Linked DNA regions of Homo sapiens: region 2 is linked to region 1. A link means that fine-mapping ties the variant in region 1 to the expression of a gene that starts in the linked region. Tissue or cell type: blood mononuclear cells. Region 1 holds a variant in brackets; the other region holds the start of a gene. All regions are shown on one strand. Distances are from middle to middle.

What was found. PIP is the estimated chance that this variant, and not a neighbour inherited with it, causes the effect.
Region 2: CEP152 starts here. The variant in region 1 is fine-mapped to the expression of CEP152 in blood mononuclear cells (TOPMed, PIP above 0.99).

The regions. Positions count from the first base shown.
Region 1 is chr15:48,725,087-48,733,193 of GRCh38, reverse strand. It overlaps the pseudogene LOC645405 and a transcript of CEP152 not described here. Among named protein-coding and RNA genes, the nearest start is that of CEP152, 82 kb to the left of the region's middle. The variant G/T (reference allele first, on the strand shown) is at 4,665.
Region 2 is chr15:48,807,992-48,816,098 of GRCh38, reverse strand. It overlaps CEP152 (centrosomal protein 152), which reads left to right and starts at 5,030. Exons shown (of 27, transcript NM_001194998.2): 1 at 5,030-5,138. LOC124903487 (a long non-coding RNA gene) reads right to left here and starts at 5,401. Exons shown (of 2, transcript XR_007064626.1): 1 at 5,292-5,401; 2 at 4,190-5,168. RefSeq lists enhancers at 4,601-4,660, 5,319-5,880, 8,103-8,107 and a silencer at 4,836-5,026.

The DNA of each region.
Region 1 (8,107 bases):
ATTTTGAACTTTACAACAAATTATTGTTAACTATAGTTACCCTACTATACTAGAGTGGTTGGTTAATGGATACAAAAACATCATTTTATATATATGTATGTATATATTTTAAGACAGTATATCACTCTGTCTCCCAGGCTGGAGTACAGTGGTGCAGTCATGGCAGCCTTGAACTCCTGGGCTCAAGTGATCCTCCCCGCTCAGCCTCCCAAGTAGCTGGGACTACAGGTGTATGCCACCATGCCTGGCTAATTTTTTTTTTTTAATTATAAGTAAGGGATCTCACCATGTTGCCCAGGCTGATCTCGAACTCCTGGCCTCCCAAAGTGCTGAAATTTTAAGCATGAGCCACCAGACCTGGCCACATTTGGCTCTTTAATAGTTACTTGTTTAAAAATAGCTACAAAGCAGCTATTACAAATGTGTTTTAAAAATTAAGGTAAAATGTTTAAAGAATTAAAAGCATGACTTTTTTTTTAACCAGAGATTCATCATTGATCATGTATTCTTTTTTTTTCCTTTACTCTAAAAAAAAAAAATACATGTGCAGAACATGCAGATTTGTTACCTAGGTATATGTGTGCCATGGTGGTTTGCTGCACCTATTGACCCATCCTCTTAAGTTCCCTCCCCTCACCCCAAACCCCCAACAGGCCCTGGTGTGTGTTGTTCCCCTCTCTGTGTCCATGTGTTCCCAATGTTCAGCTCCCAATGTTCTCACTCACTTATGAGTGAGAACATGCAGTGTTTTGTTTCCTGTTCCTGTGATAGTTTGCTGAGGATGATGGCTTCTAGCTTCATCCACATCCCTTGCAAAGGACATGATCTCATTCTTTTTTATGGCTGCATAGTATTCCATGGTGTGTATGTACCACATTTTCTTTATCTAGTCTATCATTAATGGGCATTTGAGTTGGTTCCATGTCTTTGCTATTGTAAATAGTGCTGCAGGAAACATACGTGTGCATGTGTATTTATAGCAGATTGATTCATAATCCTTTGACTATATACCCAGTAATGGGATTGCCTGGTCAGATGGTATTTCTGTTTCCAGATCCTTGAGGAATCGCCATACTGTCTTCCACAATGGTTGAACTAATTTACATTCCCACCAACAGTGGAAAAGCATTCCTATTTCTCCTCAACCTCGCCAGCAACTATTGTTTCCTGACTTTTTAATAATCACGTGAGATGATTGGCGTGAGATGGTATCTCATTGTGGTTTTGATTTGCATTTCTCTAATGACCAGTGATGTTGAGCTTTTTTCATATGTTTGTTGGTCACATAAATGTCTCCTTTTTAGAAGTGTCTGTTCATGTCCTTTGCCCACTTTTTGTTGGGGTTGTTTGTTTCTTGTTGGGGTTGTTTAAGTTCCTTGTAAATCTGGATATTAGACCTTTGTCAGATGGGTAGATTGCAAAAGTTTTCTCCCATTCTGTAGGTTGCCTGTTCACTCTGATGATAGTTTATTTTGCTGTGCAGAAGCTCTTTAGCTTAATTAGATCCCATTTGTCAATTCTGGTTTTTGTTGCAATTGCTTTTGGCGTTTTTGTCATAAAGTCTTTTCCTATGCCTATGTCCTAAATGGTATTGCCTAGGTTTTCTTCTAGGGTTTTTATGGTTTTGGGTTTTACATTTAAGTCTTTAATCCATCTTGAGTTAATTTTTGTATAAGGTGTAAGGAAGGGGTCCAGTTTCAGTTTTCTGCATATGGCTAGCCAGTTCTCCCAGCACCATTTACTGAATAGGAGATCCTTTCCCCATTGCTCGTTTTCGTCAGGAAAAACGTGACTATTTTAAAATAGCAACTATAATACAATATTCCCTGTTGAGTCATTGTCATCATATTTTCATCTTATTTTTTTCTTTTCCATATATTTTTCTGGTAAATATTTTTTGTCTGGTAAGAACACAGGAAGGTAAGATATACTCAACAAATTTTTAAGTGCACAATACAGTGTTGTTAACTATACATACAGTGTTTTACATCAGATCTCTAGAACGTTTTCATCTTGAGTAACTAAAACATTATACCTGTTGAACAGTAACTCCCCATTTCCCCTGACAGCCCCCTTCTATTCTGTTTCTGTGAGTTTGACTATTTTAGAAATCTCATGTAAGTGAAATCATGCAGTATTTGTCCTTTTGTGACTTTTAGTCTTTATTCAACATCCAAGCACATGCATAGTTTTTCTTGACAGCTTTTTTCTTTGATATAAATCAGACTTTCTGTTTCTTTACATACGCTATAAATTTGTTGAAAACTGGAAATTTTACGTAACATATTGTGGCAACTCTGGATTTGGTATTTGTTCCCCTGGGGGTTGTTATTGCTGGTTTATTATTATTGTTGTGTTGTTTCATTATTTGCTTAGACTTTATCTGCAAAATCCTCTATGGTGTGTGCCTGCTGATTTCTCCACTGTTGTTTTAATTTGCATTTCTAGTTTTTAGCTGGTCATTTTAGGGGATTTCTATGCATCTGTATTGCTTAATGATTATTCAATTATTGGTTGAAGGCTGTATTGAAAAACCTTGAGTCAGTAGGTCTTCATCCTATGCTGATGTGTCTGTGCATTCAATGTTCAGGCAATTTTCCAGTCTTCCTCCACTTTGCTTCCCTCTGAGCGCTTCCAGGTCTTCCTGCTCATGTGCACATCCTCATTAGTTCAGGGATATGTGGTGAGCATGGGCTTTCTTAGGTTTTCCCTACATATGCACACAGCCTCCCACTCCAGCAGAGATATGCGGAGAGCTTATTTAGCCCCTCATTTCTAGACTTTCTTCCTGTTAATTTAAAAATTAGTCTGCCCATCTCTTGCCCCAAATGGGACTGCAATCTCAGACTAGCGGAGCTATGCATCTTCCCTGTTTTTGTCCCTCTAACTTTACTGTTTTTAACTAACCCTACTACTGGGCATGGGCTCCTTTCCTTCTACTCCAAATCAAGTGAGCCCACTGTAGCAGAGAGGCTGCTAATGTTCACTGTCATTCCTACACTGTTAGCACTACCTCACTGATCAAGCTGGGGAGCGGAATGGGAGCAGCCCCTGGTAAGAACGCCTCAGAGTCTCACTGATCTTCCAAAGTTCAGCAGCTTCTCAATTTTGGTTGTTTCCCTTTGGTTGATTTTTGGAGCCCTGAAATGGTTGTTTTTCTTCTTTTTTCAGTTTTGTAGTAATTTTTTTTGGGGGGGGCCGGTGGGGAGCTTCTTCACTCCAGTATCACCAGAAATTTCCTTATTTTTATTTATTTGTTACGTACTGGAGTAATCTCTTTTCTGTGTATTTATTAATTTTTTCTTTATTTTCCCCAACTTTTTATATTGAAAATCTTCATAATCTGTAGAAAATAAACACCTATATACCCTGCATTTAGATTTACCAATTGTTTACTTTCTACATTTGTTTTATATTTGTCTGTAAATATACATATGTATGCATGTACATAGTATGTACATGTATATAAAAACATTTTTCCTTAACCATGAAGATTATTTGCAGACACCCTGAGTATTCCTTCCTAAATACTTCAGCATACATTTTCTAAGAACAAAAACATTTTATTTCTTAAATACAATTGTCATATTTAGGACATTGAATATTGATAAATATTTATATACATATACACTTAAAAAATTTTTTTTATTTAGGAGATGGGATCTTGCTCTGTCACCCAGGCTGGAGAGCAGTTGCTCAAATCACTGCAACTGAACCGAGACTTCAACTGTTGGGTTCAAATGATCCTCCCCGCTCAGCCTCTTGAATAGCTGGGACTACAGGTACACAGCACTGCACTTGGCTAATTTTTAAATATTTTTGTAGACACAGTGTCTCGCTATGTTGCCTGGGCTGGTCTCAAACTCCTGGGCTCAAGCAATCCTCCCACCTTAGCCTTCGAAAGTGTTGAGATTACAGGCGTGAGCCACTGTGCCCAGCCAACATACATACATTCTATATTCAAATTGCCCTAATTGTGACAATAATGTGTTATAACTTTTTTTTAGATCTTTGCTGTTCACCTTCAAGCTGAGGACTTACCACTTTTCTTCGATTATGAAAAATGCTCAGCCAATAGCTATTCATTAAACAAATATTTATGAGGTGTCAACAACTGATTGTTAATGTTCTAGGGTGATACAATGCTTATCAAAACATGAGTTTCTACCTTCATGGTTCACACTCTAGTCAGGGGAGACAGTAAATACACATAACTTATGTAGTATGTTAGAAGTTGGTAAGTGCTATGGAGAAAATAAGGGCAGGTAAGGGTAAAAAGAGGAGTAAAGAGGGAGTGGTTACAAATTTAAATAGAATAGTGAGGGTTGGTCACGCTGAGATGGTAACATTTGGGTAAAGATTAGAAGGAAGCCACTCTAACTCCACCATTCCTTCTGTTTCCTGCTTCTGGAACTTCTCTTAGACATAGCCCCATCCTCGTTTCTCTTCATTGTTCTTTTGTATACTTTTATTTTTCTGTGCTACTTTGTGGAGGTCTTTTTTCACTGGAAGTACTATCTTCCAGTTTGCTAATTCTGTCTTTGTTTGTTTAATTTATTGAGTTTTGAAATTTCACTTCCGGGATTTCTAGTTGGTGTTTTTACACCTAGACTTTTTGTAAAATTTCTACCTGTTTAGTAATCTTGTTTTCTAATAGATTCTAT[G/T]TATTTATATTTTTAAAGACTAAGAAATTCTTAAAGTTACTTCTAGAGTAATTTATCATGTCACTTGGGAGTGAGTTCATATCCAAATTGTTGCTTTTTGTTTGTTTGTTTTTGCCTTACACAGAATTAGTTTCCCCCACGCGTGTGGAATTTTGGCTTGCAGTCTAACTTGCAGTCTAACAGTGAAGAAGATTTTTTTTCTCCTTCTGAGTTCTCTCCCACCACTGTCTAGTTCTTTTGGTTGCCTCCATATGGGCTCCATATAGTACCCAGTCCAAGACTGGGTCTTACATAGGTGATTTCTGATCTAGTGGGGCTATTCTAAAGCTAGTCACTGAGCCAGCAGGCAGCTTGGCCCAGTTCCTGGCTGCAAAGCTCTGCCTTTAACCTCTAGGCTCTCTAGATACATAGTTTTAATATAACTTGTGGCCTCAGGTGGAGAGTGTAGCTTTTTCAGCCTCCCTGAGGTAAGGAACCCCTACCTGGACTACTGCTTTAGACAGCAAGCTTGTCCTTTGTTCCTTTCCTCAGTTGGATGCTTTTAGTCCTTATTATTCTGCAGAAACTCCTGGCCACCTTTACTACTTTTGGTTTTTTTTTTTTTTAAGCCGAGTCTCACTGTGTCGCCCAGGCTGGAGTGCAGTGACGCAGTCTTGGCTCACTGCAATCTCCACCTCCAGGTTCAAGCGATTCTCCTGCCTCAGCCTCCTGAGTGGCTGGGACTACAGACACGCACCACCACTCCTGGCTAATTTTTGTATTTTTAGTAGAGATGGGGTTTCACCATATTGGCCAGGCTGGTCTCGAACTCCTGACCTCAAGTGATCCACCCACCTCAGCCTCCCAAAGTGCTAGGATTACAGGCATGAGCCACCGTACCAGGCCTACCTTTACTACATTTAGATACAGAACAGGTAGTACCTTACTTTTCAAGTCCTCAGGGACATTTTGTGTTTTAAAAGTCTTTTTTCTCTATATACTTTTTCCATCATTGTTATATGTTGGTAGATGTTGGGTCCTTCCAAAGTGTAAACTTAGAATGCCATCAAGGACCTAAAGTCTGCTTTGTCATTAGCTCTGTGTCTTAGCTGTTTCTGTAGCCTGTCTGGGCCTCAGTGTTTGCTATTATTAAGGTTTAGGCATATGATTACCTAAAGATTCAGGTAAACCAGATTTAAAAGTATGTGAAGGCCGGGCGCGGTGGCTCACGCCTGTAATCCCAGCACTTTGGGAGACTGAGGCGGGCCCATCACCTGAGGTCAGGAGTTCAAGACCAGCCTAGTCAACATGGTGAAACCCCGTTTCTACTAAAAATACAAAAATTAGACAGGTGTGGTGGTGGGCGCCTATAATCCCAGCTACTCGGGAGGCTGAGGCAGGAGAATTGCTTGAACCTGGGGGGCAGAGGTTGCAGTGAGCCGAGATTGTGCCATTGCACTCCAGCCTGGATAAAAAAGCGAAACTCCCTCTAAAAAAAAAAAAAAATAAATAATAAAAAAAAAAGAGTACATGAAGAATAGTGAGATAGGTAAATTGAGGCTAGATCATGATCATGGATGGTCTTGGATGTCAAAGCCAAAGAATTCGAAATTTGGTTCATAGAAAAGGGAGAGTTGTTGAAGTTTTGGTAGCATGATTTAGAGAGATTAGGGAAGCCATATAATAGGAGGACTTGGAGGAACAGAGCAAACAGCCAAGGAACCAGGAGGACAATGTCCAAGGACAGTCAGGCAAGGAACAAGGCCAGAGCCAGGGTAGATGTGGTGGAAATGAAGAGGTGACAAGATTGAGAATATGACACACCCATGCTTCCAGGACCTACTGAGAAGGGATTTAGAGCCTGGGTGTTTGTGAAGATGACTCTGCTATCAACAGTACTGGAGAATCAAGACAGGGTGGATTGAAGGGACCATGCTCTCCCTTGAGTACTGAAGTGCACAGTCCTTTGGTGGGCACAGTCATGAGAACAACTAATTTACAGATGCTAACTTGATGATGAGCATTGTGCCAAGCACTTCACTAACTCCTTTAATCCTCACAACAGCTTTTTGAGTGAGGCTCTGTATAAGCACTTTATGGTTGGCTAAAATCAAGGCTTAGAGAAGATAAGTAATTTGTTCATGGTTAACACAAGCTTGCAGCAGGCAAAGCCAAAAGTTATACCCAAGTCTTTTTTTTTTTTTTTTTTGTCTATGAAGTATGTATTATTTTGGCAAGTGATTTTTTCCTTCCTAAGAATAAGATGAACATGTCCAAATGTTACCTGTGCCAACTTCACAGATACAGAAGTATCTAGTCTTCATTTCCTCAATGCCCCAATTAGATGGTTCTAGTAAACGAATCAATATAGTTAAAAAAAAAAAATACAGGTTCAACAAAAGAGCACCATCCTATTAGGGAACTGAGTAACATGTGAAAATGAAGTTGTCATTATAATCAAAATGTTGCCCAAATTCTAACAAACCCAAGCTGTTATACTAGTACATGGACGCAGTCCATAGTGTTAACCTAAAGAACTCTGGGACAAGAACATTATTTGAAAAATAAACTCCAAAATTATACCTGTAATAAATGGTGAGACAGACCAATTTTAAAGCACAAGTGACATGTTACACTGTATTGCTTCTTGAACTTTCCAAACAATGCTTGTCCATGTCAGGTTTGGGCCATTCTCCTGCTAAGACAGAGAGCATTGTATTTATTCAAAAGCCCAGATTTCAATATCTTGGATAAAGAAATCTTCCTTCTTAGAAAGTGTACGATTCCCAAACGTTTTACAAGAATGGCTTCTTGCATGGTAGAGATCTCCATCAAGCCAAAGGGCAAATTCTCCTCCTCCACCACCGAAAGCTAGTGAATCCATGTCTCCTTTGATAAAAAACATGTTATCTCCTGTCCACTTAAAGACCTCAAACTCTGGACAGAATGTAAAAACAAAGGTCTCTCCAGTACCATAAAAGCCATCACTCACTTTAAATGGCTCAGCTGCTAACGCACCAAAAACCTGTCCATCACTGTCTTTAATTACCATCAGCACTGGGGTGTCTAAACCTGTCATTGTTCGATAAAGAGTTTTCAAGCAAGCTTGTGCCATGTTTTCCAGTACCATAAACAAGAGTCCGTGGATAGCCAATTGTTCTTGGTGGAAGATGCTTGGTAAGCTTTTCAATTTGATCTGGCAGTAAACTTTTCATTTGAGAATAGGTTTAGGTTTACCAAAAAGTTGCAAAGATATACAGAGTCTCTATACCTCTCACCCAGACTCCTCTGTTGTTAATGTCTTACATCACTATGGTAACTTTTTCACAACTAAGGAACCAACATTACATTTAAATATAGATGTATTTTTTTTTTCTTGTGACGCTAGAGGCCATGGCTTTAATCCCTATACTGTCTTTATTTGGTTTGGCTTACAGGTGAGCTGGAATTTATTTTAAAGGGGA
Region 2 (8,107 bases), 83 kb before region 1:
TACAGGCATGTGCCACCACGCCTTGCTAATTTTTATATTTTTGGTAGAGACGGGGTTTCGCCATGTTGCCTGGGTTGGTCTCAAACTCCTGACCTCAGGTGATCTGCCGGGCTTAGCCTCCCAAAGTGCTGGGATTACAGACATGAGCCATGGCGCCCCACCCAAATGTATATTATTTTAAAGTCGCTATAGAAAAAGTGAAAATATTTAAAGTAGTTAACACTACATAGAGTTGGTTTAATCAAACAACTCACAATAAGCTTACTTGATATTGATGAAGCCAAACATAGTTAATAAATAAACAGTAATAACAGCTCGTAAAGACCATGACTTCCTGGGGGAATGGTGCTATTAACATCCTCCTTCCAAAACTGGGAATTCCAATTACCTTCAACTGTGCATGAGCAAGAGCTTTGTAATATTGCACATCCAAATGATGATCATTCTTGATAAACCCGAAAAATGCACTCATTTTAATTTACAAATTCTTAACATTAGTAACTTCCTATATCTTACTTGGTGGATTTCTAATTGTATGTAAAAATAAAAATCTACAAATTATTTTCCTATGATAATTGAAGAAATGCCTTGGGCATTTGTATCATTTAATACAAATGAGGTATACCAGTGGACCATGGCCCTATTTGGAGTATCACTGGTCTAGACTTTTCAAATATAATCACTAAAAATGTATCTTAGTCATGAATGTTTGGTTGCCAAGAATGTAAACCTACCTTTATTAACTTCTTAGGGCTACTGTAACCAATACCGCAAACAACAGAAGTTTATTCTCTCACAGTTCTGGAAGATAGAAGTCTGAAATCAAGATGTGGTAGGGCCATGCTCCCTCCAAAGGCTCTAGGGAAAAATCCTTTCTTGTCTCTTCCAGCATCTGGTGGCCCCAGACGTTCCTTGGCCTATGGCAATCTAACCCCAATCACCACCTTTACCCTCACATGGCTGTCTTCTCCCTATGTGTCTCTTTGTGTCCTCTCTTCTTATGAAGACACCAGTCATTAGACTTAAGGCTGATAGCACTTTGCATAGCACTTCTGTGATGACATTGCTTTAACCTGATAGCTTTGACACCAAAAAAGAGGAAAAGGGAGAAATGATGGTTTAGCTTTACCTAAGTTTAATCCCGAATGAGCTCATATTAAACAATTGTATCAGCAAAAACCATATTTCCAAATAAAGTCACATTCTGAAGTTCTAGGTGGACATGAAATTTTAGGGAACATGATTCAACCTCTACAATGACCCAAGCCAGCTCAAGTCAAAAAGTTTTTAAGGTTTAGTTATCACAGAATGCAAGGAAAAGCTAAACTGTCTGGCTTTTCAAAGTACAGGAACCAGACAGATACATGGCTTTCAGTGGCAAAAGTTCATGATCTTCAGTCTAGGGTCTACCATGTATATGACACAGTTATGGAGGAAGCATATTTCCCATAAAATACAGGCAAGTGTAATAAAAGTCTGCTTCTCCTCTGTATGGCTACCACCTTGCTCAGTTTTGTGGAATCTTAGTTATCTGGGAAGGGAATACGATTGGCCCAGCTTGGGTCTAGTGTTCCCCTTTGATTCAGTCAAGTCTGGCCAGGACCGTGGGTGGTAGGATGGTGATGGTGGTGAGGTCATAATGACTGTGAGCAGGAGCAGATTCTGTGAGAAGGGACTTGAGCAGAGTGGGCATTTTGATCCACATGTCAATATTAAATGATCCCAGCACAGTGTTTGGCACAAAGTAGGTGTTCCCAAAATACTGTTGAATAAGATGTAAATAATGGTCTGATCTTCCTTGGTTCTTTCCAAGTACTCCTGTTCCATCTCTAGCACTTCCTATTTTTGTCCTGTTCTCATGAAGCCATATCCTTTGTGTAGACTCTTTGTTTGTCCCATCCCATAAGCTCCTGTTGCCCTCGGCACACATTCACCCTTGTCTTTCTCTGCCATCCACTCCCAGAACACCTTCCTGGTTTTTCCTTACTACCTCAGACCCCAGTGTGTACTCTAATCCAATAAGCCATAGTACATAGAAACACAATGGAAAATAATGTTTTTACATTTAAAAGCTGTTTCTCACAATCTCATCTCATTTTTTTTTGGCCACAATCCTGAGAAGTGGGTATTATCATCCCTATTTTCAGATAAGGACTTTGAGGCTTTTGAGTGTTAAATTGTTATGGACAATGCTAGTAGGTAGGAGAACTGGGACTTGAACTCAGATCTTCTTACTCTAAGTTCTGTGTTCCTTTGAAGATAGTACTCCTTGATGATAGCACTTTGGATAGCACTCCTGTGATGACATTGCTTTGACCTGATAGCTTTGACACCAAAAAGGAGGAAAAAGGAGAAATAATGGTTTAGCTTTACCTTTATAAATGCTTGTTAGTGGGAGGGACCCCATCTCATCAACAATGTGACATTTTCTCTTGAAATGTCTCACCCAGCTCATAGGTGTGCCCATTTAAAACATGCAAGGTAAACATCGAGCCAACGTTTCACAAATAATCTTTTGTCCAGCATTTGAGATCTTTGGCAGTTTTACTTTCTTCTCCCACACTTGCCTTTCTTATCCCAGAATGCCTCTGTCTGCTTGTGTTTCTTTGGATGTTAGATTCATTCCTTGTGCACACCATTACCTGACCTCTGTAGAATGCCCTTCCTATTCTCCCAGGCTTAAAGCTCTTCTATGGACCACCTCCTTCCTGCCTTCTTCTCCAGACTTACATCTAAATGTAAGATTCCTGCACTTTTGCTGGTCTGGCCTTTAAATTGCACTCATGCTAATCAACTGACCTGTTGAGCTCTCTCCTTCTCTTCTTCCTTGAACCTGCCTTGATAGATTCATCTTTAGGTGTTCACTTTCCCTAGAATTATTGCCTATTCTACTCTTATTACACTTAGTAAACAATTTTTATTATTATTTATCTTTCTACGTAAGCATCTTGTAACTCAGAGTGTTGGTACCTTGAGCATAGGGGTCCTACCCTGCACCTAGGCCAGGACTTAAACAGGATAGGTGGTCAAAGAAATTTAGTTGAATATATCCATAACTCCACCAAAAACCATTTTTAGAGGCATGGCAGGATGGGAGGTTGATTTATTCTTTATTTTCCCTCTTTGTCACGTATATGCTAGTCTCACTAAAATATTTTGTATGTAGTGATGAGCTCTGGGTTTGGAGATAAAGGACCTGGTTTCAGATTCTGTCTGCCTTGTATTAGCTGTGTAGCCTTGGACAAGTCATTTAATTTATTTTTATGTAAGTTTCTTCAACTGGAAAATGGGTAGGAATACCTGTCCTAACCCCCCACAGTGTTGTAGTGAGAACCAAATGAGATGATGCTTGTGAAAGAATTTACCAATCTGTAAAGCACTGTGTAATGGATTATAAACACTGCCTCCTCATGTGCTTACCCTGACACGTTTTATGCTTTCATCCTTCTAAGAAGCAGTTGTTTGTGCATGGGGATCACCTGGCATTCTTGCTGCAGCACTCCATCATAACCCTCAGCACAGAATGCAACATACAGTTTGCCAATCGACTTCAGTGGGATGTGAAAAGTGAAAAGTGCATTTAATTCTCACTAAGATGCCTTGGCTCAGATTCAACAAATGCCATTTACTTGAAGGCCTTTTATTTGCTTTTTCTGCCTGCCCCCCTGCCAAAATCTTCATCTATTTGTTCATTTATTCATTTACTCATTTAACATAATTGTTTTGAGTGCCTACCAGGGTCATGTTAGACACCCAAGAAGTAAAGTGAGTACTTCAAGATATTCACGTTGTACTGAGTGTAAGACACACAAAAACTTACAGTAGATAAAAGAACTATAATAGGATATATAGGATACACTGTGTACAGAGGTAGGAAAGATCATTTTTGCGAAGTGAGGGAGTGTGTGTCATGAAAGGCTTCAAAGGAGGTGCTAGTCTGTCTTCAAAACTAAGTAGCAGGAGAAGGTAGAGGCGATGCAGGTGAAAGAAACAGCTTTCACAGCAGGTGAAAGAAAAAAAGCGCTCTGGGAACCATTGTTAGCTCAGGCTGTGATTTCGTTCATTCTATTACAGTGGGTTAAATTACCTGTTGTTTGCCAAACCCTATACCAGTTTATGGGGTTACAGGGGTCAGTGTAGGCATCATGGGGGCGGACGGTGAAGTAGCAAAGGAAAACCAGCCACAGTATGAAGAGCCTCGAACAACCATTTTACTCCGTGCCAGTACACATGGGAAAGGGTTGAAAGGATATGTGAACCTGCCGCCACCAATTCCTTGATTATTCACTGGAACCCTTTCAGCCAGAGAAGATAGACACAGTACTGGGCTTTACTGAGGACTGGGTGGCGCTGTCTTTAGGGGCAGGTTAATAATATACACCTAAGTGACAAGAACACTCACACCCGAGGAAATTAGAGTAGTAAATAGACACGTGGAAAAATGTGCCATCTTATCAGTAATTAAAGAAGCAAAAATGTAAACAAAGCGGCACCTAGTAAGGTAGAAGACAAAGCAAAATATCTAAGGCTGTTAAATAATGGGGAAGCAGGCGCCTTAGAAAACAAGGGCAAATGTAAAAAACCTCTAAGGCAAGAGTTCGGTGGGGAATCTGCGGGATTCTGTGTGCTGAAGCGCAGGAGGCACGAGTCACCTTTGCAGTCTCCGGTACCAAACGGGCAAGGGGTCCCCGTAAGACTGCTGCACCCTGGCCGAAGGTAGCGGGTGAAGCGCCTCGGCGTCTCTAGGCAACCGATCAGCCCGCCCACTCCGGGGTGACTTCCTCGTAATTGGCTCTCGAATCCACCAATGGGCGCACAGGGGGAGCTTCCCGCCACCTCTGGCGCCCGCTTTCAAACAGCCGTACTTTGCAACTGCAGGTGGACTTCTCAACCAAGCTTGAGGAAGGCGGAGACTTCTGCCTCCTCGCTCTGCCCTGAGCTGGCACGGCTCCGCCCACCGGGCGAGCTTCTAGTCGGCGATTGAAGGATGCGAGTGCTCCTTAAGGGCCTCCGCCCCGTGAGTTCGGTTGTGACTAGGAAGGAGCTAGTGGACTAGAGCCAGGGTAAGGGGATCTGCTAGAAGTTGGTCTTCCGCCAGGACTAGAGTTTCCTCGCGGTAACAGCCTCCGTGGCCTCCGGTAAGTTCTGATTCACGGGTGAGCTTGGACCTGGGGTTAGAGGAGTTGCGGGGTCCTCGGGATGCTGGCTGAGGGTTCCTGGGGGGGCTGACCTGCCCCCTCCCCAAATCCCGCGGTGGTGGACTGCCCGCATGTTGCGGGCTCAGCTTTTACCTTAACGTGTCATTTAGACCTCTTCATTCCTCCAATATCCTACTTAGAAGTGACATATGGGAAGCCCGCCTCGTTTCCAGGCTGCTGGGGTCGCCCTGAGACCCTACTCTGCGGACCCCGCCTTGGTCACCCTGGCGTCACGCCTGGCTCACAGTAGGTGCTCTGTGCACGTGTGTTGACCGAGTACAAGTGACGCTGGCACCCGAAGCCAGTAGCCCCGGGCATCCTGGGCCCCGTGCGGCTTTGGTCATGTTTGTAGTGCCGTAGCTGACGCCAAACAGTTCCTCAAGGTCATTCGCTCAGCCTGTGGATGCTTATTGTGTATTAGCATTACTCGCTCCGCCCTCTGGGCAACTTGAATCAATTTGTCCAAAGTGCTGTTATTAGCACTGATCACAAGATGTTGTGATCATTTGTTTATATGTCTATTTTCTTTCCCTTCATCGTGTCCTGTTAAACTTTGTAATCTTGAACAGTGCTTGGTAAATTGTCGAATGAATGAATAAGGTGTCTCCACCAGGTGTTGCAAGTCTAAACCGGGCTATGTGCTCTGGCTATTTCCATTCTAGAAGGCGAGTTATGTCAGCAAGTAAGTAGAATTTCCCAACTCCAAGTGCAGTTCTTAGAAACCCCTTTTGTGGGGGTTTATAACCCTTCCTATATCGTAGTCATGAACTTGAGTCTGATTTAAGCCTATTATCACCTTATACCTTCATAGTGCGTGACAATGAACATGCACTCCCTAGACAGGTGAATGCACTCAACTAAAGAGAAGCTGAAGTTGAAGCCATAAGAAAAGCATAAGAAATACAGTCTGAAAGTGCAAAGGAGTGGCCAGCTCCATGGGGGAACAGGCTTGGGAGGGCATCTTGAAGGAGGGTGGCATTTTTGTTCCATAGGAGGTTGCATTATTAGAAGTGACATTTCTCATAGGCTGCACATTCACCTTTTCTCAGATATGCGGAATCCTCTTTATTCCCTAAACCTCTTCGGTAGCTGGCAGACTCCTATTCATCAGTAATAATGTCATAATAGTAATAAAACTACAATGTATTGATTGGTACATAGTGCTAATTACTTTACATGTAGTATCTTGTGAATCCTCAGAATCAATCTTTGAAGTAGGTATTATTTTTACCCCCATTTCTTTAACGTAGAAGCAGAAACAGTTTGCTCAAGATTGCACTGCTGATAAATAGAAGAGCCAGAATTGAGCCCAGGTTGTCTGAATGAGTGCCCTCATTCTTAGAACCACTTATAGCCATATTGTGTCCTTTAAGATTTATTTCTAATCTAAAAGCTCTTTTTTTTCTGTAAAACTTCTCTAAACTATCCTTTCTTCTTAGGAAAAGTAATTTGTGCTTTGTACTTTCATCTACTACGGAATTTATTACAATATGTTATTGTAACTGTTTATATCAGTGGCTCTATCTAAGAGAGGGTGAGCAGAGACAGTGAGCTCCTCATGGCTGGTACCATGTCTTAGGTGCATCTAGGATATGATCTGGAACACAGTGGGTATTCAATAAAATTTTATTGAAGTAATGAATTCGTATAAGGTAACATGCCTATATCATATTCAGTCAACAAATATTTGTTATGTACCCACCATGTGCAAGCAGGCAGATACATTTTAATTCTGCCTTCAGGGTGCTTATAGTTTATTAGATGAAGCAAAAACAATGCTACTTTTGCTTTGTAATCTTTTGTCCAAATACCCATTGCTTTTGTTGCAAGGAGGGCAGAGAAAACAACCGGGGACAACAAAAGGAATGCTGGGTCAGAGCATCCATCTGAGTGTAACAACAAGACATACTTTTTATAGTCTTGTTAAGGGTTCAGAAAAAGTTATCTAGGAAGAAAGTCTACCAGACTGCTATTGAAGAAGAAAACCAAAACATACTGTATACTTAATCTGCATCTTGATTTCTCAAGTGGTCAGCCTTGAGTCAATAGATATAGAAAATTTTCAGTATTTTTACTAGTGGCATAGTATTGACAAATTAATTCAAAATAATTTTACTAGTGTAAATGTTAATTTTCAATATATTAATATTGATAGTTTTCAAGATGGTTTAGCAGTTGATATTTTCACCAGCAACTCATGAGCCATACAAAATACAAAATAGTCACCACTGGGTGATAACAAGTTTTTTTTTTGTTTGTTTGTTTTTTCAATCTAGTGGTTGAAAATGGCATATTGTTTAAATGACACTTCTTTGAAACATCACGAGCTTAAGCATCTTTTCAAACTAATTGATTTACACTTTTTAAAATAAATTGTCATGTCAGTCGCCCAATTTTATATTGGATTGTCTTTTTCTCATTTCTTTGTAATAATTTTATATTGGGACTTTGTCAGGTGCTTTGCAAATTTTTTTTATTCTTATTTTTCTTGACTTTGTTATTGATGTATTTTTTCATATATAATATTTGACTCGTTAATGATGTCTTTTGCCTTAAACAAAATTTTATTTTTTGTGGTTAGGTTTCCATCACATTTTTCTTTATGGCTTTTGGATTTACTATCTTGCTATTTTTTTTTTTTAAAGAAGTCTCTTTTGTTGTTCTGAATATTATACTAAAGTCTCTGGTAGCAGTGATAATGAGTGGTGATTAATAAGTTAAGGTATTAGCTTTTATTTTAAGTCTCATTTAAAATATGTATTACCTTTTTACTATATATATTTTTAACCACATTAAGTTGATCAGGTTTCCCTTTATGTCTGAAATCATTTCTTAAAGTCTTTTATAGTTTATAGTTCTGATAAGGAAAACTTATACCTTCTTCAGTGGGGGAGATTTTGGTCTTTTCA